Linked DNA regions of Homo sapiens: all the other regions are linked to region 1. Evidence: fine-mapped expression QTL. A gene starts in region 1. Each other region holds a variant in brackets. All regions are shown on one strand. Distances are from middle to middle.

What was found.
Region 2: its variant is fine-mapped to the expression of CFAP43 in nasal epithelium (TOPMed, PIP above 0.99).
Region 3: its variant is fine-mapped to the expression of CFAP43 in prefrontal cortex (CommonMind, PIP 0.95).
Region 4: its variant is fine-mapped to the expression of CFAP43 in prefrontal cortex (GTEx, PIP above 0.99). The same link has a PIP of 0.9 or more in adrenal gland.

What each region holds. Positions count from the first base shown.
Region 1 is chr10:104,227,665-104,235,849 of GRCh38, forward strand. CFAP43 (cilia and flagella associated protein 43) reads right to left here and starts at 4,700. Exons shown (of 38, transcript NM_025145.7): 1 at 4,518-4,700; 2 at 2,926-3,179. The coding sequence starts at 4,582. RefSeq lists an enhancer at 4,527-4,821.
Region 2 is chr10:104,128,219-104,136,403 of GRCh38, forward strand. It overlaps CFAP43 (cilia and flagella associated protein 43), which reads right to left. Exons shown (of 38, transcript NM_025145.7): 35 at 5,402-5,566; 36 at 3,898-3,978; 37 at 3,113-3,266; 38 at 1,670-2,087. The coding sequence ends at 1,921. Among named protein-coding and RNA genes, the nearest start is that of SFR1, 10 kb to the left of the region's middle. The variant GTGT/G (reference allele first, on the strand shown) is at 4,566.
Region 3 is chr10:104,180,474-104,188,658 of GRCh38, forward strand. It overlaps CFAP43 (cilia and flagella associated protein 43), which reads right to left. Exons shown (of 38, transcript NM_025145.7): 13 at 7,797-7,937; 14 at 6,847-7,019; 15 at 5,501-5,650; 16 at 4,543-4,673; 17 at 1,893-2,040. Among named protein-coding and RNA genes, the nearest start is that of MIR609, 34 kb to the right of the region's middle. The variant CT/C (reference allele first, on the strand shown) is at 3,989.
Region 4 is chr10:104,169,453-104,177,637 of GRCh38, forward strand. CFAP43 (cilia and flagella associated protein 43) reads right to left here. Exons shown (of 38, transcript NM_025145.7): 20 at 2,958-3,083. Among named protein-coding and RNA genes, the nearest start is that of MIR609, 45 kb to the right of the region's middle. The variant T/C (reference allele first, on the strand shown) is at 3,928.

The sequences.
Region 1 (8,185 bases):
AATATTTTACCTGGTTTATTATTTCCCTTTTAATTTTTCATGGTGTTTTTGATGTTAATCAGTTTAAAACAGATATACAATCAAATATGTCTGTCTTTTCTAAGTTTTTGTTTTGTGTGAAAAGTTCTTCCCCTTCCTGGAATCACTCCTCTATTCTACCATGTTTTCTACTTTTTTTTTTTTTTTTTTTTTTTTTTTTTTGAGACAGAGTCTTGCTATGTTGCCAGGCTGGAGTGCAGTGGCGTGATCTCGGCTCGCTGCAACCTCCGCCTCCCGGGTTCAAGCGATTCTGCATCAGCCTCCTGAGTAGCTGGGATTACAGGCATGCGCCACCATGCCCAACTAACTTTTGTATTTTTAGTAAAGATGGGGTTTCCCCATGTTGGCCAGGATGGTCTTGATCTCCTGACCTCGTGATCCACCTGCCTTGGCCTCCCAAAGTGCTGGGATTACAGGCGTGAGCCACTGTGCCCGGCCCATATTTTCTACTATTTTCAAGTGGATTTGTTATTTATATTTAATGCTTTTTTTCATCTGATATAGACCATGAGTATCTAACTTGATACTTTTGTTAAAATATGCAGTTTTCTTAACCACTGTTGAATAATCTATATTTTTTCTTCTTTCTTCCTCCTCCTCCTTCTCTTCCTCCTTCTTTTTGGTGGTAGCCTCTTTCTTCATTTACTCAGCTTTTATATACTTTAGATTCTGTCCCAAGTCTTCAACTCTCCCACTGATTTGGTGATCCCTGCACCAGTGCCATACTTCTAATTACTATGGCACCATAATATTAAAATGACCCTCTGCCTTGCCATCATTCTCTTTCAAATTATTCTCATTCTCTATGTTTTATTTTCCCAGATGAATTTTGGAATCATTTGAGTACTCCTTGCTGTCTAAAACATAGGATAAACCTACAAATTACTTTCTATGACAAATCTCAGAAATATATTTATAATAACCAGGCTTTCCATCCAGGAATATATTTCTATATATTTAAATATTTTAAATCAATGATTTTTGTAGTTTTCTTCCCCTAGGTCACTCACACTTTTTTTTGAATTATTTCTAAGTATGTATATGTTCTAATTGTATGGGTACTTATTTCAAAACCAGCATCTTACTGAGCATTCTTTTGTTAGTCCTAGCAGACTATCGCATTATCCATCATCCCCTTTCCCATAGCTATATTTTTTTCAGTTTTATATTTTGTTGCATTGGCTAGAACTTCCAGGTTGATATTAAATAATAGTGATAACAGGTCTCTCTGATTAATATTACTGATTAGTATTACTGGGAATTCCTTTAGGGCATCATTATTCAGTAAGACTCCTGGGTATTGGTTTGAACTAACTTTCAATTGGTTCAAACAGAACTACAGCCAAATAACCAACCTGGGGAAATTTTAAAGATAAAGGGTATAGTCCACCTAGATAGTCCCCAACATGTGAATGGGTTATGTTTTGAAAATTGTCTTAAACTGTTGAGAATGCAAATTTCACCACAAACAAAGTATTATAAATTATAGTGAAGTTCCCTGACTTCATCCAAACACTTATTTGACCCTTAAGACTACAGAGCTAAGTCCAGCCTCAAGCATGAGCTTTCTGCCCATGGGGTGTTAAATGAAGGAATCATTAGCTGGTGGCTCCAGCAGACGTGCAGCAGCTCAGTGTGGGTCAGCTGTATCTAAGAAAGAGTCATTAGGCCGGGCACAGTGGCTCACGCCTGTAATCCCAGCACTTTGGGAGGCGGAGGTGGGTGGATCACTTGAGGCCAGGAGTTCGAGACCAGCCTGGCCAACATGGTAAAACCCCATCCTCTGCCAAAAACATAAAAAAAAAAAAAAAAAAGCCGAGCATGGTGGCGCACACCTGTAATCCCAGCTACCTGGGAGGCCAAGGCAGGAGAATCACTTGAACCCAGGAGGTGGAGGCTGCAGTGAGCCAAGATCATGCCACTGCACTCCAGCCTGGGTGATAGAGCCAGACTCTGTTAAAATAAAATAAATAAAATAAACACTAATAATTCAAATGGTAGGCAACATTGAGCACTTGGCATACATACACATACAGCATATTATATATTTTCATCTATCATCATCACCGCAGCCTTCACATTAGACACCATCTTTATCCCTATTTCATGAATGAGGAAATTGAGGCTCAGAGACTTGACTTTAGAAGCTATACAAACATCAATTCACCTGGATTTTCAACAAATATTAGGAAAGAAAAAAAAGTCATTGCTCTGAAAAAGGCAATAGTCTTCTAGCCCAGTGCTTCTCAAAGTTTAATGTGCATATGAATCACCTGGGAATTTTGTTAAAATGCAGATTCTGATTGAGTAGCTCTGATGTGGGAGCCAAGTTTCTGCATTTATAACAAGCTTCCCAGGTAGCACCAATGTTGCTGGTAAACAGACCACACTTTGAACAGCAAGGCTCTAGCTAACATAATTTAAATCCTCAGTGATCAGCTTGATTCCTTCTTTAAAAATGTATATTAAAAAAAAAAATGGGGCCAGGCGTGGTGGCTCATGCCTGTAATCTCAGCACTTTGGGAGGGTGAGGCAGGCGGATCACTAGGTCAGGAGTTGGAGAACAGCCTGACCAACATGGTGAAACCCCATCTCTACTAAAAATACAAAAATTAGCTGGGCGTGGTGGTGCGCACCTGTAATCCCAGCTACTCAGGAGGCTGAGGCAGGAGAATCACTTGAACCTGGGAGGCAGAGATTGCAGTGAGCCAAGATCGCACCACTGCACTCCAGCCTAGGCAACAGGGCAAAACTCCATCTCAAAACAAACACAAAAAACAAACAAAAAAAACCTTTCAAAAAATAAATCTTCACTTATAATAGATTTAGTCAACTCTTTAAACAAAATCCTTCAATTATGGGCAGAGGAAGGGTTCTCTAGAATACCTTTCAATTTGGTCCTTCTGGTCAATCCTGGAAAGCTGTATACGTAGATGAGAGGTTTTAGCTTCCGGTCAGAAAAAGCCACAACTTCACAGGGGATGTTAGTTGCCATGACGCCCACAATTCCATTACTACACTGCAGTACAGTCTTTTTCTTGGTTTCAATATTAATAAATATTACATAATTCCCACAAGGGTAGCAAATGGTGTTGTCGTTGACAAAATGAACATTCTGCTTAGGGAATCCTTGCACCCATCTTTGGGAAAAGATATGTCAACATCAATATAATACATTTCAAATACTTTTTTTTTTTTAACAAAGCAAAGGGTCATCAAAATCTTTGAAACATTTCTATTTTCATGTCCTTTCTGCCCCCAATTTCTAAGATAAAAGAACACACATGCTGGCTGTGAGATCCATTTGAGTCAATGAATTATAGAAATTTAAATGTAGACCTAAAGTTCCGTAGGTCTCCCAGGCCTTCTTCAGATAACTTTTTCAGCAAAGGAAACTCTCTGACCAAACCTGAGAAAGTCTCAGAAGGACTTCTGGGGTCTTCTATACTTGGAAGACAAAAAGTGAAAATAACAGAGAAAAGAGCTTGATCTCAACACAGTGGCATCCTGGGCCATTCTTTTATAATTAGTTTGATTTTTTTAAATAAACTTTAAAAAACAACTTTGCATAGGACAGCCTGCTTTGTGGTTGTTAGCAGAGTAGGAAAATTGCTTATTTACACAGATGAAGAGTATGTGGCCATATTTTAGATTTAAAAATACAGATAAACGTAGAAAATAAAAGGAATGAAGTCGACGTGAATGAAAGGCTAGCACACAAAAAGAACATACTCTCAAGTAAGGAGTGCGTGCTAGGTGTATGCTAGAAAGGAGAGGAGATGAAGGAGATTCTATTTTTATTTAAATATTAAAGGTATGCTTGAAGATGGTGGAAAAGGCAAGTGAAGGACACTGGTTTGGTGAGAAACCTCGAGACATTAGAGTGTCCAGGACTAGCAGGGGATGCTGTATAGAGTGGAGGTGGGGGCTGGGAGGAACACTCTAGAATGTAGGGGAAAAAATGCCACCTATATCTGCGCAGTGCTTGATGCTTTTCAAAGGCTACTATAAATGCAAATAAATCCAAAGCTAGTGGATAGGAGTTAGAAGGAAAGGATTCAGGGACCTAACTTTGGGGAAAATCACCAAAGGTAGCAAGGACGGGATCCGGGCTGTCGCCAGGTGGAGGGGGAGGGGGATGTGATCAGAAGACCCGGATCACTAGCGGGAATCCTGAGCTAGAAGGAAGAGATGAAGGGTGCAGGGGACGTTGCTGGGTAAGAGACGGAGGGTCAGGGTCGCAGAATAAGGAGTGGGAAAGACAACTGGGGACGGGGTCAAGGAACAAGGGGATGGGGAGCGGACAGGGGAGGTCACACGGGGAGGGAGGCTGAGGGAAGGCACTGGGGGCAGAGGGGAAGAGGTCGAAGCTGCGGGGAAAGCCGCCCTAAGGAACCGGAGGGAGAGGAGGGAGGAGGGGACTTGGGGCAGGAGGTTCCGCGAGACCCAGATCGGTCGCGGGGCCGTGAACACCGCACCTCACGGACAAGGACGCGCCGCCGGCGGAGTGGGGGCCTTCGTCGCGCTCCCGGCCTTGCGCCATGGGCAGTGTTTTCCTCAGGCGGGAGCAGGCAGCGCACGCAGCACCCCAGGGCGGGTCGGTTACCTTTCCGCCGCCGCGGGGCTGCGGGCCGCGACGCCGCTGCTGTGTACACCCGTATCCCGGAGACCGTAAGCCCCGCGCCCATTGGCTCTGCGCTTTGGCCCGCTCCCTTCTGAGCCGAGCAGATTGGTGGAAGGTCTGCCGCTCTCGGCCAATGGGTGAGCGGCAAGCCAAGCGAGGGGCGGGCCCCTTGCTGTTCAAAGTGTGGTCTGTTTACCAGCAACATTGGTGCTACCTGGGAAGCTTGTTATAAATGCAGAAACTTGGCTCCCACACCAGATCTACTCAATCAGAATCTGCATTTTAACAAATTTCCCCAGGTCCGGGCCAATAATTGCAAGTAAGACTCATGCCTACAATCTCCGCGCTTTCGAAGGTCAGAGCGGGAGGATCGCTTGAGGCTAGGAGTTGAAGACCAGCCTGGAAGACATAGCGAAACCTGCCGCGCCCGTGCCGCATCTCTACAAAAAAATTTAAAAAGCAGCCGGGCATGGTGGTGCACGCCTGTAGTCCCAGCTACTTGGGAGACTGAAGTGGGAGGATCGCTTGAGCCCAGGAGTTCAAGGCTGCGGTGAGCTGGGATGACGCCACAGCACTCCAGCCTGGGCGACAGAGCGAGACCTGTCTCTAAATAAATAATTATTTTTAAAAATCAATAAATTTCTAAACAGACTTTCATTTAGAGTGCTGACTGTGCCAAACATTGTTGCAACGTCTTCACATCTCCCATCAGCCCCATTTTACAGATAAGTAACGTGAGGAAAAGAGAAGCACATAATTTGTCCATGGCTACAAAGTTGAGTGGGACTTTATTTATTTATATTATTTATTTATTTATTTTTGAGATAGGGTCTCACTCCGTTGCCCAGGCTGGAGGGCAGTGGCTTGATCTTGGCTCACTGCAACCTCCATCTCCTGGGTTCAAGCGATTCTCCTGCCTCAGCCTCCCAAGTAGCTGAGATTACAGGCACGTGCTACCATGCCCAGCTAATTTTTTGTATTTTTAGTAGAGACGGGTTTTCACCATGATGACCAGGCTGGTTTCAAATTCTTGACCTCAAGTGATTCGCCCGCCTTGGCCTCCCAGAGTGCTGCGATTACAGGCGTGAGCCACCTTGCCCAGCCCTGAGTGGGACTTAAACGCAGGTCTAGCTAATTTAGAGCTCCAAGCCCTTAAGTACCATATAACACTTTGAAATGTACCCTCTTGCTTCCTCAGGGAAGCAGACAGCTCTGGAAGTAACCTGATTGAATGGTCGGCAGCTTGTCATTCCTTCTTCTCTCCCATACCTTCCCTTAGACTCCCTCCCTTACCCTTCTTCCTTTCCCTTCAGTCGTCTTCCCTTCTCTACCCTTCCCTTCCTTTCTTTAGGTCTTTCCTTCCTGTCTTGCTTTCTTCTCTCCATTTCTTTCACAAATATTTACAGAGCATCCCGCATGCATTCATGCATGTGCTAGTCACTTGGAAAAAATAGAAAAACAAATAAAGTTTCTTCCTTCTTGGAACTTAGAGACTGGTGGGATCCAGGGAGTTGGGCTAGATATCCACATGGTCTCAGATGGTCTGTGTAAGTTGTGAAAGGATTTATGAAAGTGATTTTATGCAAGAAATGTTGTACAATTCACGGATTGTTAGGCCTCCTAAATGCTTCATACAATGCCCTATGACTCTTACTGTACAACTTGCCTGCTTAAGTAAGGGTGAGCCCTGTGGACATGTGGAGTTAGCTATGCCCTCTAGCTATGCTAGAGAGTCAGCTGTTATCTGCACTTCTGCCTGTTGTGTCCTAGGCTAGGCTCCACACCTAGTACACAATTAAAATCTCTTACTTACCAAGGTTTTCACCAAAAATAAAAGTTGCAAAAAGTTAACATTATAACATGTAATTAAAACTACTAAAGAAACAGTTTTACATGCAAGGTGTGTAAAGAAAGTAAAATGTGTTTTTGGTGAAAGATTATAAGAAGTAATGGGAATGTGGATTTTTCTCTGCCTACATTTAAGTGTTAAAGGATTGCTTTAAGTAAAAAAAAAAACTAAAGGTTTAAATAAGTTGTGGAAGGTTTATAAAAATTAATTGTAAGAGATTCTGTATGTGAACATACTGGCTAAAGTTACAGGGGTATTATTCAGTTTTTCGATAAATTAAACATTGGAATAAAAGCACAACAGGTTTTTCTTAGAGTTGATCTGCTCTTTCACACACACACACACACACACACAATTGTAAAGGGTTATACGAGGTTTATAAGACTCTTACCTTATGGTTAACATTAAAATTGGGTAAATATGTCTATAAGGTTTTATTAAAAATTGGGTTTAACATTAATAGCACATTAATGTAAAGGTAAAATTTGGCTTATTTGCTATAAAAATCATATAGGAAGCATTGCCAAATATGAAATGGTTTTTTGCTTTTTTTGGACTATATTTGCATAAATGTGTTATTGGTATATGTTACAAAGTTATGAGAAACTCTTATAATTCTAATATGACTTAGTGTAGATTATTAATAATTATAATTGTTATGTAAAATTTTGTGTGCCACATAGGTAACCAAGTTTCCTTATCAATTGTGGCTTTAATAGTGGCTATCCTAAAACTTTTTATCATCCACAATTGTTTTCTTGTTCTAATCCTCTTTAGAAGGTGGTTTATAATCAACTGTAGAACTCCAGCAGGTGTTCCCAAATGCAGGTTTCCAATAACTTTGGAAATTGTAACATTAGAATAGAGGAAACAACTTTCAGAACCCTCATGTAGAGCTGGAATGTTCATGAATATCAGAGTCAAGGAAACTTTTCTTTTGAGCTATTTACAGCTTTTAGCAATTGAGTATACTTCTGTGAACAAAATTTGGAGTATATTTGTTTCTCTCTACCTGATTTTTCCAAAATTTGGAAACTATTTGTGAGTATTCTTAATTTATGGCAATATAGTTATTTGCATACATGCAATAAGGATCTGTTTTCTTTTGTAGCAGAACACAATTGGATAAATTGGTTATTTCACCACGGCTTTAACTGGAATGGTGTGCTTTCCTTTAAGGAATCAAACTTGACTTGTAAAGCCAATAAAAGCCACTTGGAGAATTGGCCTCAGATCTTGTCTGCAACTGTCCCTGTAAAGGTAAGTAAAGAATGACCTGTGGTAAGTAAAGAATGTCACTTTCTGGCAGGTCCAGGAGTCCTAAGTTATCTTGGGACCTCAAGAGAACAGGAATTTACTCAACTCATAGATATTTGAGGATACAAACACATGGCCGAGCTTGGCTTTACAAAGTCTTGTCTAAGATTACTTCTATAGAGCAGAGTTCCATCAAAGCTAATTTAAAAAGAGCCTATGTGAAAAATAATTATTTTTGTTGCACTTTATACAAATAATCAGGCCAAGTATAACAAAGCAAATCAGCCTTACCATGATTTGTCTTTAGTAAAAATGAGAAACTGGAGAGAGAAATATTATGTTTCAAGTACTGTGGTATACTTGTTATTAAATTCTAGTCTCATTAGTTGTTTTTAAGTTCGTTTCTGCAATTTAGG
Region 2 (8,185 bases), 99 kb before region 1:
TGAACAGTATTAAGAGAGGAGTTACTGTGCATGACCCACATGTCCTTCCAAAGCCCCAAAACCAGAAGGTATCTCCCGTTGAAAGGGCTTCTGGAATAGGGCTTGATGGCAAGAGGTGCCCACTAAGCCCCACTCCATCCATGCCTCAAAGTAAGGCAGTCAAGCAAGGAACATTGCCAGAGTCAACAAAGGTTGATGACTAAGAAATAGAAATGATGCCGGCTGCTTTGTTAAGACCTGGGAATCCACAGAGCATTATCTAGTGAAATTTGTGGCACTACTAGCAAATGGAGTCTCCAGACAGCTAACTTAGGTGAAAATGGAGTTTGTGTCACCAGAAAAGATTGTAAAAAAAATCAAGTCTAGTACATCTATGGTTGACTCAAACCAACAGGACAGAGAACTTCTGGCAATACCATCTTAAGTATAAAGTATTTGCACCCCTACCCTGGGGTCTGTCCCCACAACTCTCATCTCAGGGATAATTTTGAAGGACCCCAGATGTAGGAAATGGTACCCATGGGCACTTCCCTACTGAATACGCCAAACTGACTACTTCATGAGTCCGTCTAGTACAAAGGAGGGGAATCATCAAAGTGTTGGTCCTATCATTTCCCTTACCATCCCCATCCAGCACAGATCACTATGTGGGTGATCAATTACATCTTCTAAAGATTTATTTTGCTAAACAGAAGATTTTATAGTAGCTCTCTTGCTTTATCTACATCAGTGTATATTGGATATGGTACTGAGGATTAAACTTAACGTTGAGTTCATAAATTGCAGAACAGTGAGACAGTGACATCACTTGGAGATTGTGGTCCATGATCCCTGTGGACAGCAGTCCACAGGTTATGGAAGGGCAAAGCAGTTTTATGGCCAATTATTCATCTCATTATATAATTATCACCATCTAAAAGTGATAAACTACTTCATGGAAATAAGAAAGTATTTTTCTGTTGGTTAAACCCTATTGGGTAAAGCACAAAATTGAATTTTCTATTACAACATAAAAGAAATGTAGATTATGTCTCTAAAGTATGTTGTAATTTTCTTCTGAGATGGAGTCTCGCTCTGTTGCCCAGGCTGGAGTGCAGTGGCACATTCTCGGCTCACTGCAACCTCCACCTCCTGGGTTCACACCATTCTGCTGCCTCAGCCTCCCCAGTAGCTGGGACTACAGGCGCCTGCCACCACCCACCACGCCCGGCTAATTTATTTTTATTTTTATTTTTTATTTTTAGTAGAGATGGGGTTTCACCATGTTAGTCAAGATCTCCTGACCTCGTGATCCACATGCCTCGGCCTCCCAAAGTGCTGGGATTACAGGCGTGAGCCACCGTGTCTGGCCAAAATATGTTGTAATTTACAAATGATACAAGGCTTGGAAAAAGCTCTAACAATTTGTCTTGTTCTCATTGGTGCAGCAGAGAATAATCTAAATACTCTCGTAATTTTTTTCTGATTATGAAAGAAATGCTTACTGAAGAAAATGAGAAACAGAAGAGCATAAAGATAAAAATTACCCATAATCTCATAACTTTTCTGACAGTTTCATAAAATTAGAAATGCTAGTTTGGCAAAGAATTTCTTTTTAAGACTTTCTATACCATAACTATGAAAATATCTTTGATCCAACTCAGATTAAATGAGTAAAATAGATCTTGAATACTTTCTGACTTCAAGTCTTGTTTATTCTTGAATAAAAACAGCAATTCATGGTATTTTACACATTTATTCATGCAGGACAAAAATTTGTATACAATTAAGGCTAAAATTAAACAATTTTTTATCTAAAACATGCAACTCAGAGGACATGCTACTTCAATTTCCCAGTAAGAAAGAAAAGGAAATCATTTTACCCAAATGAAATGATTTTTTAAATGATTGATTTGGCCTTGTGTTTTCCTGCCAGCGTTTTTACATTTGAACAAGAGCAGGAAATGTTTTCATTCTTAATCTTTCAACTTCAGTCTGTAGTATTGAAATCTGTTCAGCTTGTTGTTTTGAAATATTTGTTAACTTCTGCTGTTGCATCATGTTTTCATACCGTTCTTTGACAATCTTTTCACAAGTCAGTTTAGACCCTATCCCAAAAATGAATAAAGGAATTCGATTATTTATCAATACTTTCAAATACAGAAGCAGCACTCAGAATCATACATGTGGAAGAAATGCTGGTAGCAAAAAGGCATATGCACTTGTATGTTTACAGCAGCACTATCACAAAAGCAAAGACATGGAGTCACCCTAGGTGCCCCATCAACAGTGGACTGGATAAAGAAAATGTGGTACATATACACCATGGGACACTACACAGCCATAAAAAAAAGAATGAAATAATGTCCTTTGCAGCAACATGGATGTAGCTGGAAGCCATTATCCTAAGCAAATTAACACAGGAACAGAAAACCAAATACCACATGTTCTCACTTATAAATGGGAGCTAAACAGTGGATACTCATGGACATAAAGATGGTAACAGGGAACACTTGGAGGCCAGGTGTGGTGGCTCACACCTGTAATCCCAGCACTTTGGTTAGCTGAGGTGGGCGGATCTCTTGAGCTCAGGAGTTCGAGGCCAGCCTGGCCAACATGGCAAAACCTACTCTCTACAAAACATACAAAAATTAGCCGGGCATGGTGGTTCCTGCCTGTGGTCCCAGGCACTTGAGGGGGCTGAGGTGGGAGGATCAATTGAGCCCAGGAGGTGGAGGTTGCATTGAGCCAAGATCATACCACTGCACTGCAGCTTGGGCAACAGAGGGACACCCTGTCTCAAAAAAAAAAAAAAAAAAAAAAAGAAAAGAAACACTGGGGACTACTAGAGGGAGGAGGCAGGGAGGGAGGAAGGGCTGAAAAATTATGGGGTACTATGCTCAGTACCTGTGTGACGGAATCATTCCGTACCCCAAACCTCAGCATCACACAATATACCTAAGTAACAAACTTGTACATGTACTCCCTGAATCTAAAATAAAAGTTGAAATTATTTTAAACAATGTATTTTTAAAGAAATGCTGATAGCTTTTTAACTGTTGTATACATTTTAGGATTACTGATTACTTTTAAAGAAACCTACAGTTGGTTAAAGAAAAAAAAGCATGCTTACCCATTGCATTACAGATGTCTTTTCTCTCTGAGACAGCTACCAACTCTTCTCGTAGATTGCAGCTTAGGGCATAATTTGCTATATCTTTTTGATTGCTGAACTTTCCAAGTTTTTTGAGTAGTTTCTTGCAGTTTTCCACATTCTTTTTGTGCATCTGAAATTTTTGTTCCCATGACACCCCACAAAATTAATTTTGAAAAATGTAATTTATCCTATAAAGACATTATTCTTATATTTTAAATACATTATCATCATTAAGATAACATCTTACCGCCATATCTGTAGTGCCTGGCATAGTAGGCACTCGAGTTATTTGTTGAAAGGTAGAATGGTATGTTAATAACAAATTTTAGAAAAAACATTTTGTATATTCTTAAACTGAGAGAATATTTTAAAAGCTTGAGATTGCTTTGTTTCTAATATATGCTACATAATAAAAACTGACCATTTTTATTCAGTGATGATTAAATAAAACCTTTCCAATGCCAAGGAAAGACTACCAACACTCCTATTACATAAATCCTAACCTAATGTAAAATAGAAAATCCACTTACACTCAGATATGTCCCCAGGGGTTAATTCTAATATTAAAGGAAGTGCTTAATTTTATTTCATTAGTTGCGGTTGCAAAGATACTACTTAGGGACTTTTAATTACCTCATGAATACTAGTAAATAACCAAGATTTTATTAGGGTCTAGGTAAATTCATGATTTGAAACACTATTACTTTGCTCAAATGATTTACAACTGTTAGGATATAATAACCAACGTCTTTGAGACTTACCTTATCTAAAACAGCAATGGTTTGTTCCATTATTCCAATCTGAATACTAATCAGAGCCTCATAGTTTGGTTCATTTAGGTACTTTGAGATTAAAAAAAAACATGTAAGGATATTTTTCTCTCTTTCAATAGATGACTTTATAAAGGTTGTTTTAGCTTTGAAAGTTACTGTTTTTCATAACAAATATCTATGCAAGTTAAGATTGATTTGGCTTGGCCAGGCGTGGTGGCATACGCTTGTAATCCCAGCACTTTGGGAGGCTGAGGCAGGTGGATCACCTGAGGTCAGGAGTTCAAGACCAGCCTGACTAACATGGTAAAACCTTGTCTCTACTAAAAAATACAAAAAATTAGTTGGGCGTGGTGGCACATGCCTGTAATCCCAGCTGCTCCGGGAGGGTGAGGCAGGAGAATTGCTTGAACCCAGGAGGTGGAGGTTGTAGTGAGCGGATATCACACCATTGCACTCCACCTGGGCAAAAAGAGCAAAACCCCATCTCAAAAAAAACAAAAAAAGATTGATTTGGCTTTTGTGCCATAATATTTCCCTGTATTTAGCCATCAATACATTCATGTACACTAATTATTACATCAAAGCACCAATTATTACAAATGCCTACTTTATTTTCTCATTCATTAATTCATTTATTCAACTCACCAAACATTTAA[GTGT/G]TGTTCCACTTGAGTCCCACATTAACAAAGTCCTAGTTAAAGACACTGAGGGAGATACAAAGATAGATAACATGTCCTAGTCTTCATGGGAAAATGATCACATAGATATGATTGGTTGCCAGAAGCCATGTAGAGTGTCATGCTAATTCAAAGGTGGTTTGTAATGAGATGGAATTTCTCCAGGCTTGGAAAATCAAGAAAGGTTTTATGAAGGAGAAGGTGGTATTTAAACTAGACCTTGAAAAGTAGATTTGGGATGTACAAAAAAGGCAAACTAAGAAGAGCTGCTGGGAGGTGAAAACTATAGAAATGGGGCATGGCTTGGAATCCACAGAACTTGGATTAGTTTGTAGGAGTGATCGTTGAAGTTAGAAAAACAGAGGACATCACCCAGGGAGAGGTATGGAAAGAAACACAAACATAGCTAAGGGCAAAATCTTGAAGAACGGCTATATTGAAGTGTTAGAGGCAAAAGAGAATCCAGTAAAAGAGGTAGAGTGGTATGACATGTTGGAAGCAAAATTAATTTGGGGTGATGAAAGCCAAAGGAATGAGAAATTAAGATGGTTAAATGCTACAGAGAATTGAAGGACCACCGGGTTTGACAGGAAATCCTTAGCTCTGAGTAGAATGATTCTACTAAATGGGTCATGAAGAACTGGAGGCTGCAAATGTAAACTGTTGGAAGAAAAATAACTCACAGATATATTTTGAAACACTCCTGGCTTAGAATATGCTTGATATCACAGAGGCTTCTTATTAAATACTGGTTAAATGAATGAATACATTAATGAATAAAATTAAAACTATGTAGGGGGGTAGGGAGAATTTACCTTTTGACGATCTCTTGAAAAAAATAGCATCTGAATATCCCAAGCCTTCTGATTTAGATCTTCCCTTTCCATCTCCATTTTCTTATGTTCCCACTCAATCTGAAGTATTCTTTTGTGTACATCTTTACTTTCCATCATGCTAGCAACTTTCTTTTGTCCTTGAGTCTTTAAAAAAGTACATTAGATATCCATATAATATGATTCTGCATATAGAACATAGAATATTTGAGGCTGAATGCTATTTTTAGAAAATACTTGGGTCACAGAGATAATTCTGTCTTCTTTTTAAGAAACAGACATTAAAAATGGCTTCTTGGGCAAAATCTGATCACTATAAAGCATGATAGTCACTAAACAGAAGGGATTATAAGATACATTTAAATAGCAGAGCCAATTTACTTTATATGTCAACAATTAGGCAGGAACTTTTTTTTGCCATCACCCAATCTACCAACCTGTATGCATTTGTATCCCTATTCATTGTCCTCCCACCTGATGCTGGGTGTGGTGTCTCATGCCTGTAATCCCACCACCTTGGGAGGTTGAGGCAGGAGGAATGCTTAAGCTCAGGAGTTTGAGACCAGCCTAGGCAACAGAGCAAGACCTCAACTATACGGAAAATCAAAAAATTAGCCTGGAATAGTGGTGCACGCCTGTGGTCCCAGCTACTCAGGAGGCTGAGGCAGGAGGATCACTTGAGCCCAGGAAGTCAAGGCTGCAGTGAGCCGTGTTCATGCCACTGCACTCCAGCCTGGGTGACAGAGCAAGACCCTGTCTCAAAAAAAGAAAGAAAGAAAACAGAAAAACAATAGTCAATGATGAAACCAAAAGTTGGTTCTTTTAAAAAATCAGCAAAATTGACAAACCTTTAGCTAGACTGACTAAGAAAAAAAAGGCTCAAATTGCTAAAATAAGAAATGAAATCAAGAATATTACTACCAATATTACAGAAATTAAAAGGATTATAAGAGAATACTATGAAAATTCTACACCAACAAATTAGGTAACTTAGATGAAATAGAAAATTCCTAGAAACACACAAACTATAAAAACCAATTCAAAAAGTAATAGAAAATTTTAATAGACCTAAAACAAGTAAATAATTGAATCAGTTATCAAAAACCTCCCAAAAAAGAAAAGCCCAGGACAAGAAGGCTTCACTGATGAATTCTATCAAACATTTAAAGAAAAATTACACCAATACTACTCAAATGTTTCCAAAAAATAGAAGAGGAGGGAACACTTTCTAATATATTATATGAGGCCAGCAGTACCTTGATACCAAAGCCAGAGAAAGACATCACAAGAAAATTACAGACCAATATCCCTTATGAATACATACACAAAGACAAAAACGTTCAATAAAATACTAGCAAACTGATTCCAGCAGCACATTGAAAGGATTATAACTATGACCAAGTGTCATTTATCCTAAGATTGCAAGAGTAGTCCGCACAATCAAACAATATAATATACCTCATTAACAGAACAAATTTAAAAACTCACATGATCATGTCAATTGATGTAGAAAAAAAAAATTGACAAAATCCAGCACACTTCAATGATTAAAAAAAATATATGCAACAGACTTGGAATAAAAGGGAACTTCCTCAACATGATAATGGGAATTTACAGAAAACCCATCATAACTTCATACTCAATGATAAAAGACTGAAAGCTTTCCAACTAAGATCAGGAACGAGACAAGGATGTCCCACTTTTTGTCACTTTGATTCAACACTGTAATAAAAATTCTAGTCATGGCAATTAGGCAAGAAGAAGAAATAAAAGGCACCCAAACTGAAAAGATGTAAAACAATTTCTATTCACAGATTAATGAGTCTATATATATAGAGAAAGTCATATAGAATCCACAAAAACCCTACTAGAGATAATACATAAATTTGGCAAAGTTGCAGAGTATAAGATTAATATGCAAAAATCAGTTATATTTTTATACATCACCACTGAAAAATCTGGAAAAGAATTAATAAATCAATTCCATTTACAATAATATCAGAAAGAAAAAACCTAGAAATAAAGTTTATCTAAAAAGTGTGTGTACAAAGAAACCTACAAAATATTACTGAAAGAATATAAAGATTAAATAAATGGAAAGTCATCCCATGTTCTTGGATCAAAAGACTTAAGACAGTACTCCTCAAAGGAATCTATAGATTTAATGCAATCACTGCCAAAATTTCAATGGCTTTTTTTTTTCAAATGGAAAAACCTGATCCTCAAATTCATATGAAGCTGCAAAGGATCATGAATAGCCAAAACAATATTGAAAACAAAAAGTTGGATGGCTAACATTTCCCTACTTCAAAGAAGAAAACAGGGACTGAGGCCAGGCACAGTGGCTCACGCCTGTAATCCCAGCACTTTGGGAGGCTGAGGCAGGCAGATCACCTGAGGTCAGGAGTTTGAGACCAGCCTGGCCAACAAGGTGAAACCCTGTCTCTACTAAAAATACAAAAATTAGCTGGGCATGGTGGTGGGCGCCTGTAAATCCCAGCTACTCAGGAGGCTGAGGCAGGAGAATCGCTTGAATCCGGGACATGGAGGTTGCAGTGAGCCAAGATCATACCACTGTGCTCCAGCCTGGGAGACAGAGCGAGAATCCATTTCTCCATTTCAAAAAAAAAAAAAAAAAAAAGAAGAAAAGAAAAGAAGAAAGAAAACAGGGATAAATCTTCATGACTTCAGATTTGATTCTTAGATATTTACTTATTTTATTTTATTTTATTTTATTTTATTTTATTTTTTGAGACAGAGTCTTAC
Region 3 (8,185 bases), 47 kb before region 1:
CTTGCTCTGTCACCCAGGCTGGAGTGCAGTGGTATGATCTTGGCTCACTGCAACCTCCGCCTCCTGGGTTCATGCCATTCTCCTGCCTCAGCCTCCTGAGTAGCTGGGACTACAGGTGCGTGCCACCACACCTGGCTAATCTTTTGTATTTTTAGTAGAGACAGGGTTTCACCATGTTAGCCAGGATGGTCTTGATCTCCTAACCTCGTGATATGCCCACCTCGGCCTCCCAAAGTGCTGGGATTACAGGTGTGTGCCAACCACCGTCCCCGCCGGCCCACCACCCTGTTTCTATGCTCCCCTTTGCAGCAAAATGTCTTGAAAGAGTTTGGGATGCCATGTTCTCCTGGTTCTCCTGTAACCTCACTGGCTACCCCTCCTCAGGGTCCTCTGCATCCCTGAACTCTTCTCCTGCCTCTCCAGAAGTTGCTCTGTCCTGGTCCTCTTCTGCTTCTTGCCATTCATGCTTCCATGATGTCCTTACCTAGTGTTATGGCTTTAAATCCCATCCGCATGCCCTTGACTCAAATCAACATATCCAGTCCTGACCTCTCCCCAGAACCCAAGGTTCATCTATCCAATGGCTGAACTGGCATCTTCACGTGGATGTCTAACAGGCTTCTCGAGCTTAATGTGGGTAAAACTGATTTTGAATTCCCTTCTTTCTCTTCATAGCTGCCCCCTTCCCCCAGAGTCTGCCCCATCTCCATGAATGACACCATCTTCTACATAAATGTTCAAGTAAAACAATCTAGGAGTTCTTGGGCCCTTTCTTTTCCTCTCTCTCTATGTCCAATTCATCAGTGAGTTCTATCAACCCTACCTCTGAAACCCACCTGGAATCCACCACTTCTCTCCTTGGCACAAGACTCCTCCACCTCCATCATTGCTACCTGAACCTCTGCCTTAGCCTCCTGAGCAATGTCCCTGCTTCTGATCCTTCTTATCACCTACAGGAAACATTCTCCTCATAGCATCAAATAGTCATTTCAATAATGTCAACTATACCTTGTTAATCCTGTGTTCAGAACACCTGACTCAGTTCTCATTACATGTAAAATAAAATTCAAACTCTTTACCTAGTTTACAAAGCCCTTCGTTACCTGGTCTCCTCCCACTTTGAAGACCTCACCTCCCACCACTTTCTCCCTAGCTCGCTTCAACTGCACAGGTCTTTTTTAGGTCCTAACATACCACACGCCAAGCTCTTTCCCCCTTTGCCCTGAATACTCTTGCTACCCTCCCATTGTCTTTGCATGGTGGTGTTCTCTTTTAATTCAGATCTCAGCTTAAATGTCTGCTTGGAGAGGCTATCCAGCCCAATACTATCACATCAACCTATTTTTATTCACTGAATAGAACTTGTTACTATCTCATTGTTTCTTCTGCATTTGCTTGTTTATCTGTTTCTCCCTGCCCATCTCCAACCCCCAATTAGGATGTAAACTCCATGGAAGCAGAAATTTTTCTTTCTTGTTCATGGCTATATCCCCCACAGCCTAGCACTCTGTAGGCACTCTATAAATATTTGTTAATTGAATGAGTGAATACTGTTCTTTAGCTAGACACTTCCTAAATAATATCTGTAATATGAAAGTATAGAGAGACCATTTTGACCAAGCACAAGTGTGGGTAGAAGATTTTTTTTTCCAGGCAAGCCTGGATCTTGTACTATGGTTTAAATGAGATCTGAAATGTACTATTTGCAATTGCTTTGAGAAAGGCTGAATATTTTCTCTCAGACGTAGCTTATTCCCTTTTTGAAAATCATGGGATACCTGGATAAAGAGAAATATTACTAAATATCTGCTTAAAGAAAACCACAAACCGAAAACTTCTGATTTACAAAGAAAGAAATGTAAGCAAGCAAGCTAGTCATATAGGAACTCAACTGTGTGTTCAGAATCGGATCCCAAATCTACGGAAACTTTTGGTGTTGTGCTTAAATAATGATTCTCCTTGTCCATGGCGCTGCTCAGGGAAATTAATAGTTTCTGGTAATAGTCCAGAATTTCACTGGCTAGGTGTCCTCCAAATCGCCTATATTAATAAAAAAGAAAACACAGAGGCTATAAAAATCATAATTTAAAAAATCACATTTAGCTGTATTATTTTCAGGTAACTAACCATTTCAGTTTATAGGTAACTAACCAAGGAAATATGTGGACAATTCTTCACAGTGCCTTGTGGAAACTTCTTCAGTGCCTACTTCTTTTGCAGAATTTCTTCTTTTTTTTTTAATTTTTATTTTTTAAAGAGAAAGGGTCTTGCTCTGTCACCTAGGCTGGAGTACAGTGATGTAATCACAGCTTACTGCAGCCTCGAACTCCTGGGCTCAAATGATCCTTTCACCTCAGCCTCTAGAGTAGCTGGGACTACAGGGGTACACCACCATGCATGGCTAAAGGACTCTGCTTCTTACAGGAGACCCTTTCATGGGTTCCAGGCCATGACAAGCTTCTTGACCTTTCTAGGGTACCCTCTCCTCACACTGTCCTCATACCCTTACTCAACATGCCCTCTGTACCTGCCCTGGTCATTGCACAGAAGAGCCAGTGCACTGGCTGAGCTCTCGGAATGCACCAGGCAGTGTGCTACTTCACACACATAATCACATGTGGCCCCCTCATCACCCCACCCTGCATTGAGAGTGGTATTATTACTTCCACTTAATTCACCAGGGCATTGCAAACTTTGGACGCATCAGCATCACTGGGAGGGTTTAAAAACAGATTCCTGGGCCCCACTTGCAGACATTCTGACTCAGAAAGTCCAGATGGGATCCAAGAATATGCATTTCTAACAAGCTCACAGATGCTACAGACCCCCTACCTTAAGTAACATTGTAACAGATGATTTAGAGGGGTTGTCATTTGCCAAGGTCACAAAGTCAAAAGTCCTAGACCATCGTTTTTTTTTTTTTTTTTGAGACGGAGTCTCGCTCTGTCGCCCAGGCCGGACTGCGGACTGCAGTGGTGCAATCTCGGCTCACTGCAAGCTCCGCTTCCCGGGTTCACGCCATTCTCCTGCCTCAGCCTCCCGAGTAGCTGGGACTACAGGCGCCCGCCACCGCGCCCGGCTAATTTTTTGTATTTTTAGTAGAGACGGGGTTTCACCTTGTTAGCCAGGATGGTCTCGATCTCCTGACCTCATGATCCACCCGCCTCAGCCTCCCAAAGTGCTGGGATTACAGGCGTGAGCCACTGCGCCTGGCCTAGACCATCGTTTTAAACCCAGCTTTGTTTTGAGTCAGAAGTTTGGGTGATTACCAATGGATCAAAATGTCCTTCTTTTTGAGCTGCATAAATAAGGCTCCAGCACTTGTTTGTTGTTGCCTGAGATAGTATTTGTTCGCTGGTTATAAACAATATGTTAGGACTTACATAGTGAGATAAAAGCTAATATTCTATTCAGAATCCCATGTATAAAATGGGCATGATGATGCAATCCTCAAATGAGTTTTTGAGGTAAGTGGCTAGCAAAATTGTTATGATACAAAATCTCCACAACATTTAACATTTTCACAATGTTGCAGAGAAGGGCCGTATTTTATTACTGCTTTGATCACAGGAGGTATCACGAAATATTATTTTTTCTAAAATGAATTGCATGATTGAAACCACCTTTGCAAAGATTACGGCAGTGAAAGAAGTCTAGCATGGCTGACTCCATCTTGTTTCTAGTCTCACAGGCTGGATGTTCTTGTTCATTCCTCCTAACCATGGGAGGAATTTCGTTTATAGTTTAACTTGGAAGCAAGGATGATAATAGTACCTCCCTAAAACGGATCCCCTCCTTGTTTGGGGACTGAAACTGTCTTTGATATAATCTAAGCAAAATCTAATTAGGAAAGTGTGTGTATATATACATACATGTATATGTCAGGGATAAACAGGAGTTTTTAAAGTTATCTGAGGGTCAGAATTGTCCACATTTCTTATGTTATGAGAGATAGGACTGATCACTCTCAGATAAATATTAACTATGT[CT/C]TTTTTTTTTTTTTTGTATTTTGATGCTCTGATATCTGGGGCCTTGCTGACTTCTGGAGGCTAGCCAGTCTCTGAAGATAGTAAACAATTTGCTCTGGAACACGCTTTTCAAAAGCAAACCGATCAATCCAGAGACCATACCCCCAACCACCTCCTCTAGTGGGCTTTCACAATCGGGGCCACCATTTCCCCACCCTAATCACCCCAGGGCCAAGTATGAGACAACTACAGCCAGCTCCTATGCCTCAGAACCCACTGATAATATTCAAACTAGCCAATCCTAAACCTGCCCAATCCTCCCTGTGAAAACCATACTAGAGGATCTCATCCACGTTTTCCTCCCTCTCTCAGCCTCCTGACCCACCCCAGGTCTGCCCCATGTGGTACCCGAGAATGCAGTGTACGCTTCTCTTGGGATCTGTGAGTATAACAAACTTTCTTTGCACTGGCAGTGGTCTCCCAGCACGTTGGCCTTGCTGTACTTAAATAATAATAAAATCTCTATTTTAACACACTATACTACATGGGGTTACTTACTGAATACTGTACGTACTTCCACTTTAGGTAGACAAGGGTGCCATCATCTCTCCCATTCACCAGAATGTTTTGTCCATCCATTGAAATTCTCATTGACTGAATCCCATGACCCTGGTGAGAATGACTCCGACACCAAGCAAATGTTTCCTCAATAGTTAAGAAATAAACCAGAAAAATTACAAATGCAATTCTACCACACGGCTTTTCTAATGGGGTTATATGCCCCTTTTTTGTGGATAAATCATTTTCTATTTGCTAACAGCATTTTAATTGGTATGGAAGTAGGCAATTGGCAATACATAGTATTTAAAATCCCCAGTTCAAACCACATTCACCAATACTAATTTGTTCTTCCACTACCTTTGTGTAGTATGGAAGGACAGGGATTATTATCACCAATTTATAATAGGAAATCAGACACAGAGAAGTGAATGGATTGCAGAAGTCTATAAAGCTAGGGAAGGGGCCTTCAGCAAGCAGAGATGGTGAGTTCCGATGGCTTCAAGAGTCAGGGAGGTTCTATTTATGTGTGAAGTAGCTGAGTATAATGAGAGAGGGTGACGGGCACTGTGAAGAATGGAAGATAACATGCTCTGAAGGATGCTAACTAAGCCAGTTTGATTAGAACTTAAACAAAATGCATCATCAATTTGGTATATAGGGCAACAATTTAAAAACTGAGATTTCTGAGTCATACTGGTTCTCAACCATGATGCCTTTTCTCATTTAGGTTTTTAAATAGGCAATACATTCAAATGGTTCAAAATTCAAAAATTATAAAAGAGTATTCTGTGAAATCTCCTTCCTGTTCCCATGACCTAATACTTCCAATGGCAAGCAAGGTAATTAGTACCTTCAATATCTTTTCAGAGTTTTTATGCATATATAAGCAAATTTTTATATACATATAAAATGTTTCCTATATGAGATCAATATATACACCCACAATATTTTTTTTTAAGAAAGCAGCTTACCAAAGTATAAACGTCTCGGATACACAGAATTCCACATTTAGCTATTGTTATGAGCCACAATCCATGTGAAGACAGATAGAGCAGTCCAGGTCCATACTGTCTGCTTTGTACTTTTTTGTATGGTTTAAGAATGTAGATACCGGTATGTTCCTGCCAATCAAAGAAAATAACCACATTATAGAAAAGATCAGGTAAACAGCACCTTTGGGTTTGCAGATATACATGCCTGTTGTATATTGTCATTGTAAATAAAATGATATGGCATAAAGTGCAAACATTGTCATTGTAAATAAATGGATATAGGATAAAGTGGACACCTGCGTTTGCATCATGTTTCCCACTTTTGCAAATAAAAGTTTGTTTCTGCCAACTAAGTAAAGTCTTCTTTATTTACTTGCCATTAAAAATCCTAGCCTACACTGATAATCTTTGCTTTTACTAATCATTTTCACATATCTTCATGCTTAAGTCAAAATAATGTAGTCAATATTCCCCGTATGTTTCATGCATTCCTACCTCCAAGCCTCTGCACGTGTCCTTCCTTTTGTCTGGAATGCCCTACTCTACTCCATCCCCACCAGTCCTGCCCTACCTCCCTATATGAGCGCTGCCCACCAAAATTGTATGCAATATCTCTCCATGTCTAAATCTGACTTACTTTTCAAAGTCCAGATCAAATATTGCTTCCTTCATGAAACTTTTCTTGAATCTCTCTTGCCACTAATCATTTATTCCTTCTCTGTGTCTAGTCCTGGCTACTCTGTCAAAGAAGAGCTTTGACTGAAGAATTTAGAGGAAGGAAGGCAGACCTTATCAAAGTGGGTAGACAGACATCAAGGGAAAGTGACAGGTCAAGGGGCAGCAAGCAGGAGGGTACTGGGCCATTATGTGCAGCAGGAGGTGACACAATGCATGAGAAGTCTGAAGAGAGTGTAATGAAAAAATGTCAGAAACACAGTTTAATTATTTTTTGTAATTTTGGTTATGGCTTAGATGCAAAGTTCCACTGCAAATCAAATCATCTACCTTGTAGCCCTTGGCATATGTAGAATAGATTTCCTAATGCTAGGTTGTTTTTTAAGGCACTAAACTAATATTGTGTCATCTGCATGTTTATCTGACAAAGATGATGTATGTGGCACAAGTATCAGGTTGCTCAAATATATTGTATGATGGATTAACAAATAACACTATATATCTAGCTCAAGGGAATTATATTAATAAAATGAAGGCATTTGTTAACTGAACTATTCTGTTAAAGTGGTCAAGAGGATCACATCTAATCAGTATAATGTATCAATCTTGATTGCTAAGATAAATGAGAGCACACTTAAGTGTTGACATACTTCTTCAGGAAGAAGGTAGCTACAGATGTATGGCACTTGACTACAGAAGCCATATATTTGGTTACTTTGAAAGCCCAAGACTGCAGAGGACAGAGCGTGCTCCAACTCATACAGGTACTTATGAATGATTTCATCTTTCAGCCTTCCTCTTTCATCAGCAAAGGTTGTGGAAACTATTAGATTTGGAAAAAGAAGAGAAATCACTTGTACCATAAATTAATTTTGTTTTTTTAAAATTATGAACAATTATGAAAAGCAAAATAAAATTTAAATGCTCAACTAATATTGCGGAAGCTAGTAGGTGATAAAAATGATTTAAAAACACTTGTCTCCCTAGAAATACTTGAGTATTAAATGACTGATAGTGGGTAAAATATTTCTGTAATGCCTTGATTAATTTTTAATCAATTAACTTAGAGACATATTAAAAGAAACCCATGGTAGTATAGAGATTCTTATAAAAACATAAAAGTACTTGGAGGTTGTCGGCTCTCTTCTGCTCTATAATTATATATTTGCAAAACTGCTAACCTGATATATTTGTCATTAAAACAAGGAAAGAGTATCTATTTTCTCATACCTTTTTATCCAGAAAACTGTCTTTATAATTTTGTCAGTGAAGGGAACTACACTGTAATCTATCTGAATTTAACCTTGTCTATTCAAAGCTACAAAACAAGAGACATCACAAAAATAACAAATCAATTTGATGTGTCCGTTGATCCTATCTCTTTTCCTATGGTAATAAAGCAGACTCATGAGTCAGGAAGCCCAGAGGAAAAGTCCACACTTCAAACTGTTTAGCATGTTGGTTTTACTTTGTAAAGATAGACAAAAGGTGGCCATTTTACCTCTTCACATGCCAAGATAAAAACAAAACAAACCCAAAAAACAATAACAACAATGTATCTGGGCTCAGGAGCAGAACTGGCTGCTTATGTTTTCCTTACCTTGTGGCAGTAATGTAGGCAGTGTGAACATCTCCAACCTGCTTCTCCCTGCTTCTGGAAGCGAGGAAAGCACCATCACTTCCACTATGTCTGTTTCTAAAAGAGACACTGTGGATATCTGTAAAATGTCTTTGGCCACCTCTGAAAGCAAACAGAGATCAACACCACAAGTGGTCATTGATAAGTTTAAATGATCTTTTACCTTTCCAATTAAGATATCATCCATGGACTTGCCTTCACTATATCTTTAGAATCAAATTATTTGCTGGACATTTAAAGTGACCTTTAAACATAAGTTACAGGGACATTTTTGATGAATGGATGAGGGATTCTCCTGATTAGATGTCTAGACTGGCAGATTTAAACCAGCCCAGTCTGTCTGGGTTTCC
Region 4 (8,185 bases), 58 kb before region 1:
TAAAAACATGTTACTTCAATTAGTTTTACTTGCTTACATAATCCTATTGCTTATTATTTAAATAATTAAGTATTCTTATTTTAATAGAGTTTTCTGAAAGGCCTGGTGTGAAAGTGAGATCTAACAATCTTTAGTCCTTAGGATCCTCTTCAGGACCTTTGTGCACTTCATTTTGTTGGCAGAATTATTAGCAAACTAGATAAGACTAATATCTCGCAGATTTAAAATGTCTTTTTTAGTACTTCTTGTGAATTTCTATTTATTTTATTGTCTGATTAAATGACTTTAATTTGCAATTCATTTCTTTTTGATTCTGATCCAGTGAGTTAATAGCTAATATAGTTTTAAATTATTTCTTTCTAAATAGACAGCTGGCTTGGCATATCAGTTGTCAGAGCCTGCCTGATTCCTAGCCCACTCGGCCCTCCTCTCTCCACTGCTGAGGCTGTTTGATCAACTCCTCCAAACTCAGTCCCTAATAATGTGTCCAGATTGTCATTATCGGGCTTTGGTCTTCTTCCTATCATTGGGATCCTGGCCGGGGTAGGGTAGTAGCCTAGTCTCTCATTCACATCCTTGACTGGCAGGTGCCACTAACTCCTCCCAAGGACTAGTATTCTGATCCTAAACATGCTGAAAGCTCCTAAACAGCTGAGTTTATGGTGCCATCTGCTAACACTGTTCTCTCCTGGGCCACTGTTGTACCTAATCTGGTGTTACTATCTCTTCAAAGGCACAGAGCTCAAGAAAAAAAAATAAACAATATGAGGGAAACTAGCATATGGAAGGCCTTTCTCTGCACCAAATCCTGCCTCAGAGGATCAAGGAGAACTCTTGAGGGATGAGCATGAATTTGGTAAGTGGCAAGGAGGGGCATCTGGGGCAGAGGCACAGGGTGGCGGTGGGGTAGGTAGGATGAGTTTGGCAATGGTAAATAGTTCAGTGGGCCAGGGGAGCAGGTTCACTGTGTCAAGTAGTTGTATACAGCTTGGAGAGAGAAGCAAAGATACAGTGAGGAAGCGGGCAGGCACTGAACCCACACACATTGCTGAGTGGTCAAGATGAGTGGGCTGGGAGAACTTGGTGCAGAATAGCAGGGGGCATTCCGAGCCTGAGCCAAACCAGAGCCAAGGAGGAAGAGTCAGGATCTTCCTGGCTCTGATCTTAGCCAAGTGACTCTAATTCTCTAAGCCTCTATCTAAGCCTCAGTTTTTTCAAGTGCGGCAAACTATCACCTGCCTCTTTTGATTGTGATGATCAAAATAAATAACATTTAAAAAGCTCCTAGATTGGTGCCTACCTCTTGTGATAAGAAAATGGGATTTTTTTTCATAGCTTCCTGTTGCACAGTTAATAAAAAAGCCAAATTCTTTACCGCAATATACAAGCTCGTCAGGGCTAGCCTCTGCCTACCTCCCCAACCTCATTCCATTAGGCTCTCTCCCATCCACGATGCTTCAGCCTTTCTGGTGTGCTGTTCCTGGAATACTCCAAGCCATTTCTGCCTGTGGGCCTTTGCTCTTGCTGCTCCCTGTGCTTGACATTCTCTTCCCTCAGATCTTTGCACAGCCAGATCTCTCTCTCCCTTTAGTTCTCAACTGAAATGTCAGCCCTTGAAGTGGTTTTCTTTGACCACAGAAGTAGATCTCCCACATCTATCACAGCATCCAGTTTGTTTCCATCATATACTATGTAGAGATTTGTTTACGGCCTGTCTTCTTCAATACATTAGCCCCATGACAGCAGAAATGTGTCTGTCTTCTTTATTCTATTCCCAGCACCTAGATTAATATGCCCAGCACATTAATAAATGTTGCAGAATGAATGAAGGAATGATTATCTCAGGTAAATTTTATTGTACTAAGTCAGTCTGTTGAGATACTCTTGTCCTAATTGTTATCCACTACATTTCCTCACCTTCTCAGTCTCATGTCATTCACTAATTTGACAAATCTCCTCATTTCTATATCTTCACCCCAGTCATTAATAAACATGTTTATCAGGACCAAGTCCTGGGGTACATGGTGGAAACCTCCCTCCTAGAGGCATCAGTCAAATAATCAACCTCCTCTTGGTGTAGTTGTTTAATCTATTATAATCCACCTTAACTGTCCTTGAATCCAGCTATCTTGCATTCTCCTGTGTTTTTATATTTGCACATTCAAAAAATTAACCTGTACTAGCAGGTTGAGAAAGAGGTAGCTTCAGAATATCCTGTGTAAAACACACTTAGGGCTTTTATTTAAAATAAAATCCATATGAGCAAACAATTTGATGTGACTGCCAGAAAATAATACAAAGGCTGAATTAATAGAAGTATAGTATGAATGGAGGTTTCAGTTTATGCTTTTCTCTACACTGGACAGAAAATAATTTGAATTCTTCTGTGGGTACCATATGCAAATATAATTAATCCAGAGGAAAACGGCATGATGATGACGAGGCTATTGAAACTATAATATATGATGGTCATAGGAGCTGGGATAATTAGCCCAGACAGGAGAAGATCCACAGGGAACATGGAAATTTCTAATCCTCTACCACTCTCAGAGGGGCCATAGAGTAGGAAGTGCTCAAAGAGTAGAAGGATCAGTGAGTACAGGAAGAAAGATTTCAACTCTAATTAAGAAAGGGCTTACTAAACCAGAAGCGTCCAAAGTTGGCATGAGGTGGCTGAGAAGACTTCCAACAATGTTCAAACGTATGGCTGGCACGAATGTCATGGAGGGGAAGCAAATGTCAGATGTCTGGCTGGCCTAGATGTTCTCCCTGCTCCTAACCCCCAAATTCGATGATCCTCTGATTCATTATACTTATATGCACTATGTTTGCTTTATTCACATTATACTGAAAAAGGTTTTGTCATATTCACATTATTATGAAAAAGTTCCCATTCCTATTATCTTTTTACTTCTTTCATCATAACTTTATGGTGCTTAAATTATACTTTTTCATACCTTTGCCACTTCTTCCTGACTTTCATCATGAAGCCTTTCTAGTTCCTCAAGATCCAGACCAAATTCCTGTTGGTCTAATTTTGCAATATTTTCTAGTTTGTCATTTTCTTCCATCATATTCAGAATCTGAATGTTGAAATAAAAAAGAGTGCTGACAAGTAAAGAATTAAACTGTAATAAGATAATTTTCTTAGTTTCTTTTAGGCAGCAATCAATAAAAAATAGATGTTCTATTTATCAAAATGTACTACTAAGTAAATAATTAGATTATGGGCTTATTGTGGTTATTGAAGTTTTAAGGTTTCATCCTTAAAAACTCTTTCATTTAATAAGGAAAACTACAAAAATATATAAGCTCATCATTTCATTCAATGATATTAAAGCACTGTTGCTAGTTTGAGGTACACTAACAGCATTGTGGTTATGTGTTTTAAGAGTCTTTATCATTTAGAGATACATACTGAAATAATTAAAGATGATATGATGTTTGGGATTTACTTCAAAATAATCAGGGGAGGGGTAATGGATGGAAGCATTGGTGAAATGATATTGGCCATTGGATGTATTATATTATTCTCTCCAATTTTGTATAAATTTGAACTTCTATACAATAAAAATTATCTTTAAAAGTTCATAACTTAAAAAAATTCAGGAGCAAAGGATACACACTACAACACATATGACAAAATATTAATGTCTTTAATATATAAAAAGCACTTACAAATAAAAACAAGGCAGACAAATGATAGAAAAAAATGGGACTTCAGTTTCAAAATGGTAGACTGAGAATGAGTTTAACAATTTTTCTTTTTTGCCCCAAAATATAAAGTTAAGAGAAAAGAAGTATATAGCATAGATAAACCCATTACTACAATGAAGAGGAAAAAAGGAATAGAATCCTTCAGGAGCATGAAAACTATAACAACTGAAAGACGGAAATCAGATGGATCAGCAGGATGCATCACAGCCC[T/C]GAATGCCCTCAGCACAGCACTCAACAACGAGTGGAAGCTACACCAGATACAGGAACAAGGGTTTACCTAAGAGTGCTGGCAGGTTGATTAGCTGGGGGTGCTGCATCAGAAACAGACAGTAGAACCTGCCTGTAACCCTACCTGGTGAAGTTCCCTAGGGTCCAGCAGTAGTAACTGGAGTGTTTGTCTCCAGGTAGAAGAAACTGGAATGAATATTTGGATGGGAGAAACAGGGCAAGGCCCAAGGAATCTGTTAGTGGCTAGAAAGAATAGAGAACCACCCCCACCACACAATGGGATGCCAAGACACTTCCCAACACCACCCACCCCTTCACTTTTTACTGAGAGCAGACAGAATACCTGCTAAAGTCAGATCTCCTACACTTCTTCCAAAGCAGACTGACCTGGTGTCATGGAACTATAACAGGGAGTTTCAATTATAAAGACAACCATGAAATAATAACAATAAATCACTAAATATTTGGGGAACAACAAGACCACTGGAGAGAGACAATAAATTCAACAAATAGAAGACTTGTTGCCCAAAAGAAAAGTTAATTGAGTGAGAAGGGTATAATTTTACAGTAACTAGGGATGCAAAATATTGTATTTCATAAAAAGAATCATAAGACTAGAAAAATAAATGAAGTATAAAGACTGATGAGAGAAATATGTTATTTTCAAAAGATATGATAGTCTACCTAGATAATCTAAGACAATCAAGTGACAAAATAGTAGAACTAAAAAGAATTCAACAAGGTGGTCAGAAAAAAATCAGTAACATTCACATATACCAATAATATATACCAATATATAACATATACCAATTGTATTAGTCTGTTTTCATGCAGCTGAAAAAGACATACCTGAGACTGGGCAATTTACAAAAGAAAGAGATTTAATGGGCTTACAGTTCCACATGGTTGGTGAAGCCTCACAATCATGGCAGAAAGTGAAAGGAAAGGCATGTCTCACATGGCAGCAGACAAGAGAAGAGAGCTTGTGCAGGGAAACTCCCCTTTTTAAAACTATCTGATTTCCTGAGACTTATTCACTACTGCAAGAATAGCATAAGAAAGACCCGCCCCCATGATTCAATTATCTCCCACCAGGTCCCTTCCACAACACATGGGAATTATGGGAGCTACAATTCAAGATGAGATTTGGGTGGGGACACAGCCAAACCATATCACCAATGCAATAGAAAAATATTCCATTCACAAAAACGGTATAAACTATAAGATACCTAAAATAAACCTAATAAGAAATTTAAAGTCACTTTCAGAGAAACTATAAACTTTCACTGGAGATTACCTTTTTAAAATTGAATAAAGATAAATAAATATATAATATACACATATGTAAGTATTATATATTTAATGAAAATATAACTGGCCGGGCGTGGTGGCCCACGCCTGTAATCCCAGCACTTTGGGAGGCCGAGGTGGGCGCATCATGAGGTCAGGAGATTGAGACCATCCTGGCTAACACCGTGAAACACCATCTCTACTAAAAATACAAAAAATCAGCTGGGCGAGGTGGCGGGCACCTGTAGTCCCAGCTACTCGGGAGGCTGAGGCAGGAGAATGGCGTGAACCTGGGAGGCAGAGCTTGCAGTGAGCCGAGATCATGCCAATGCACTCCAGCCTGGGCGACAGAGCGAGAGCGAGACTCCATCTAAAACAAACAAACAAACAAACAAACAAACAAAAAAAAACCAAAAAGAAAATATAACTTTAAAAGTTATATATTTTAAAAGAAATAAATATACAGGCCTGGTGCAGTGGCTCATGCCTGTAATCCCAGCACTTTGGGAGGCCAAGGCAGAAGGCTAGGAATTCAAGACCAGCCTGGGCATCATAGGGAGACCCTGTCTCTTCAAAAAAATACAAAAATTACTTGGGCGTGGTGGTGCATGTCTGCAGGCCTAGCTACTTGGAAGGATGAGGTGAGAGGAATGCTTGAGCCCAGGAGTTCAAGCCTGCAGTGAGCTACGCTTATGCCACTGCACTCTAGCCTGGGTTACTAAGCAAGATCCTGTCTCTAAATAAATAAATGAAAGATGTAAATATATAAATATACAGATGCTCCTCAACTTATGATGGGGTTATGGCCCAACAAACCCATGGTAAGATGAAAATATCATGTCAAAAGGGGCATTTGTAGACATGATGGGCTGTGAAAACATAAAACACGATATCCAAAAAATGCTGGCAACACAGTACACTTCAGAATATTCATTGTTTACCTTCGTGATTGCATGGCTGACTAGGAGCTGTGGCTTACTGCTGCTGCCCAACATTGTGAGAGAGTATGGTACCGCATATTGCTACTCTGGGAAAAGATCAAAATAAGCCTGCAGACATGTGCCACCACGCCCAAGTTTCTACTGAATGTGCGTTGCTTTTGCACCATCATAAGGTTGAAAAATTATAAGTTGAACCACTGTGAGTTGGGGACTGTCTGTATATATCTTAATTCAATTTAAAAAATATTCTTCAGTAAAGTTTTATCATACATACTTATATATATACTAAAGTTCAGAGCTGGCAGATAAATTCTTCTCCAAATCAAACTATAAGCAATATATTCTCAATCAAAATCAAATCAGAGTTTTTCATGGAGATTGACAAGCTGAATTTAAAATTCCAATGGAAAATTAAGTACACATAAAAAGGCCAATTTTTTTTAAAGAAGGGCAAAAGGAGAATTATTCTCAAGGTACAAGAACTATTATAAAGTGATAGTAATTAAAATAGCTTGGTATTGGCTCAAGAAAAATCAATATTCAATCTTAGAACAGAGTCCAGCAACAATCCTATATCCAGGGATTGATAGAGAAGACATTGCAAATCAGCAGAGAAAGGATAGTATATTAAATAAAACAGACTGGGGAAATGGGCTATTTATTTGAAAAAATAAAATTAGAACTATATGTCATACCATTCACAAAAATAAATTATAGATGAAATCAAAGAGCATTAGAAGAAAATATGTGTGACTTTGAAAGGTCATTTAAAATCAGAGGTAAAACCCAAAAGTTATAAAGAAAATGATCAATAACTTGGATCATGCCATAGTTTTAAAATTCTGCTTTATAATAAAATTATTTAAAATTTGGCACATTATAAAAGTTAAAAGAAAGTATTTAGAGTAGGATGAGCCATATACTTTTCTAGAAAATATTTGTAGGTTGAGCCACATAAAACAGCAATTGCATGAAGTTCCACCTAATAATAAGGGCTACCTTTAGATATGTCGCATTCACACTTCCACGCTCTTCTCCTTTCCAACTGACTCAAATGAGATCAAGCAAGGCAATCTTCGAAGCCCTGAGTTGAAGATAGCAGGGTCTCCAACAGTCTGGGTCTCTGAATGACTGCATGGAACAGAGCAGCTGCTGAGCTAAATACCCACCCAGGATGGTTACATGGGAATGAAATAACCTTCTCATCACTGTGCCACTATGTTTTTCTGAGTTTGTTACCATAGGCTAGCTAACTCTAATTATCATAAATACATATAAATAAAAAATAAAAATAAAGAACTCCTATAATCAACAAGAAAATGACCAATTATCCAATAAGGAAATAGGCAAAGAATATAAACAGGAAATTCACAAGAGAAGAAATACAAATAGTGTTTAGAGTTATGAAAAGGTGCTCAGCTTTATTAGTAATCAGGAAAATAAAAACAAAGGCCAAGGAAATGATTTAAGAACTTTTTCTAAAACCAAGAGACAAAGGTTTCCTATTAAAATGCCCATCGAAGTCTAGCACATGGAAGAAGAAAACACCTAGGGTCCTGGTAGGAAAAAGTAACACATTCAAATGGGAAAACTGAAGAGAGAAACTTAAAAAAAAAAGATTTGGCAGAGTAAGGAGAGCCAGCAACACATGATAAAGCATTAGGCTACCAACTGCGGGCTCGGGAAGCCATCTCTGCTCGTAGGTCTGAAGGGCAAAGGCTGGGAGTGGTTAATGAACCTGGAGAGACCCATAAATGTAGGAGAAGGATGGCGGTCATTGCCAACTCATAACCCTACAGGGAGGAAACTGGGAGAATGAGGACCCTGGTCTTAGTCTTCTGCCCTGCAATCTGAGCCCCAAGAGGCTGGCCTTCATGAATAGCAACAATGGGGTTCTCCTGCTGATGCTACTTATTGCCTAAACCCAAGAGAAAGCCAGAAGGCAAGAGAGTGCATTGCTACTGTCCATAAAGGCCAGCCTCTTGGGGCTCAAAGAAGAGTGGAAAAGG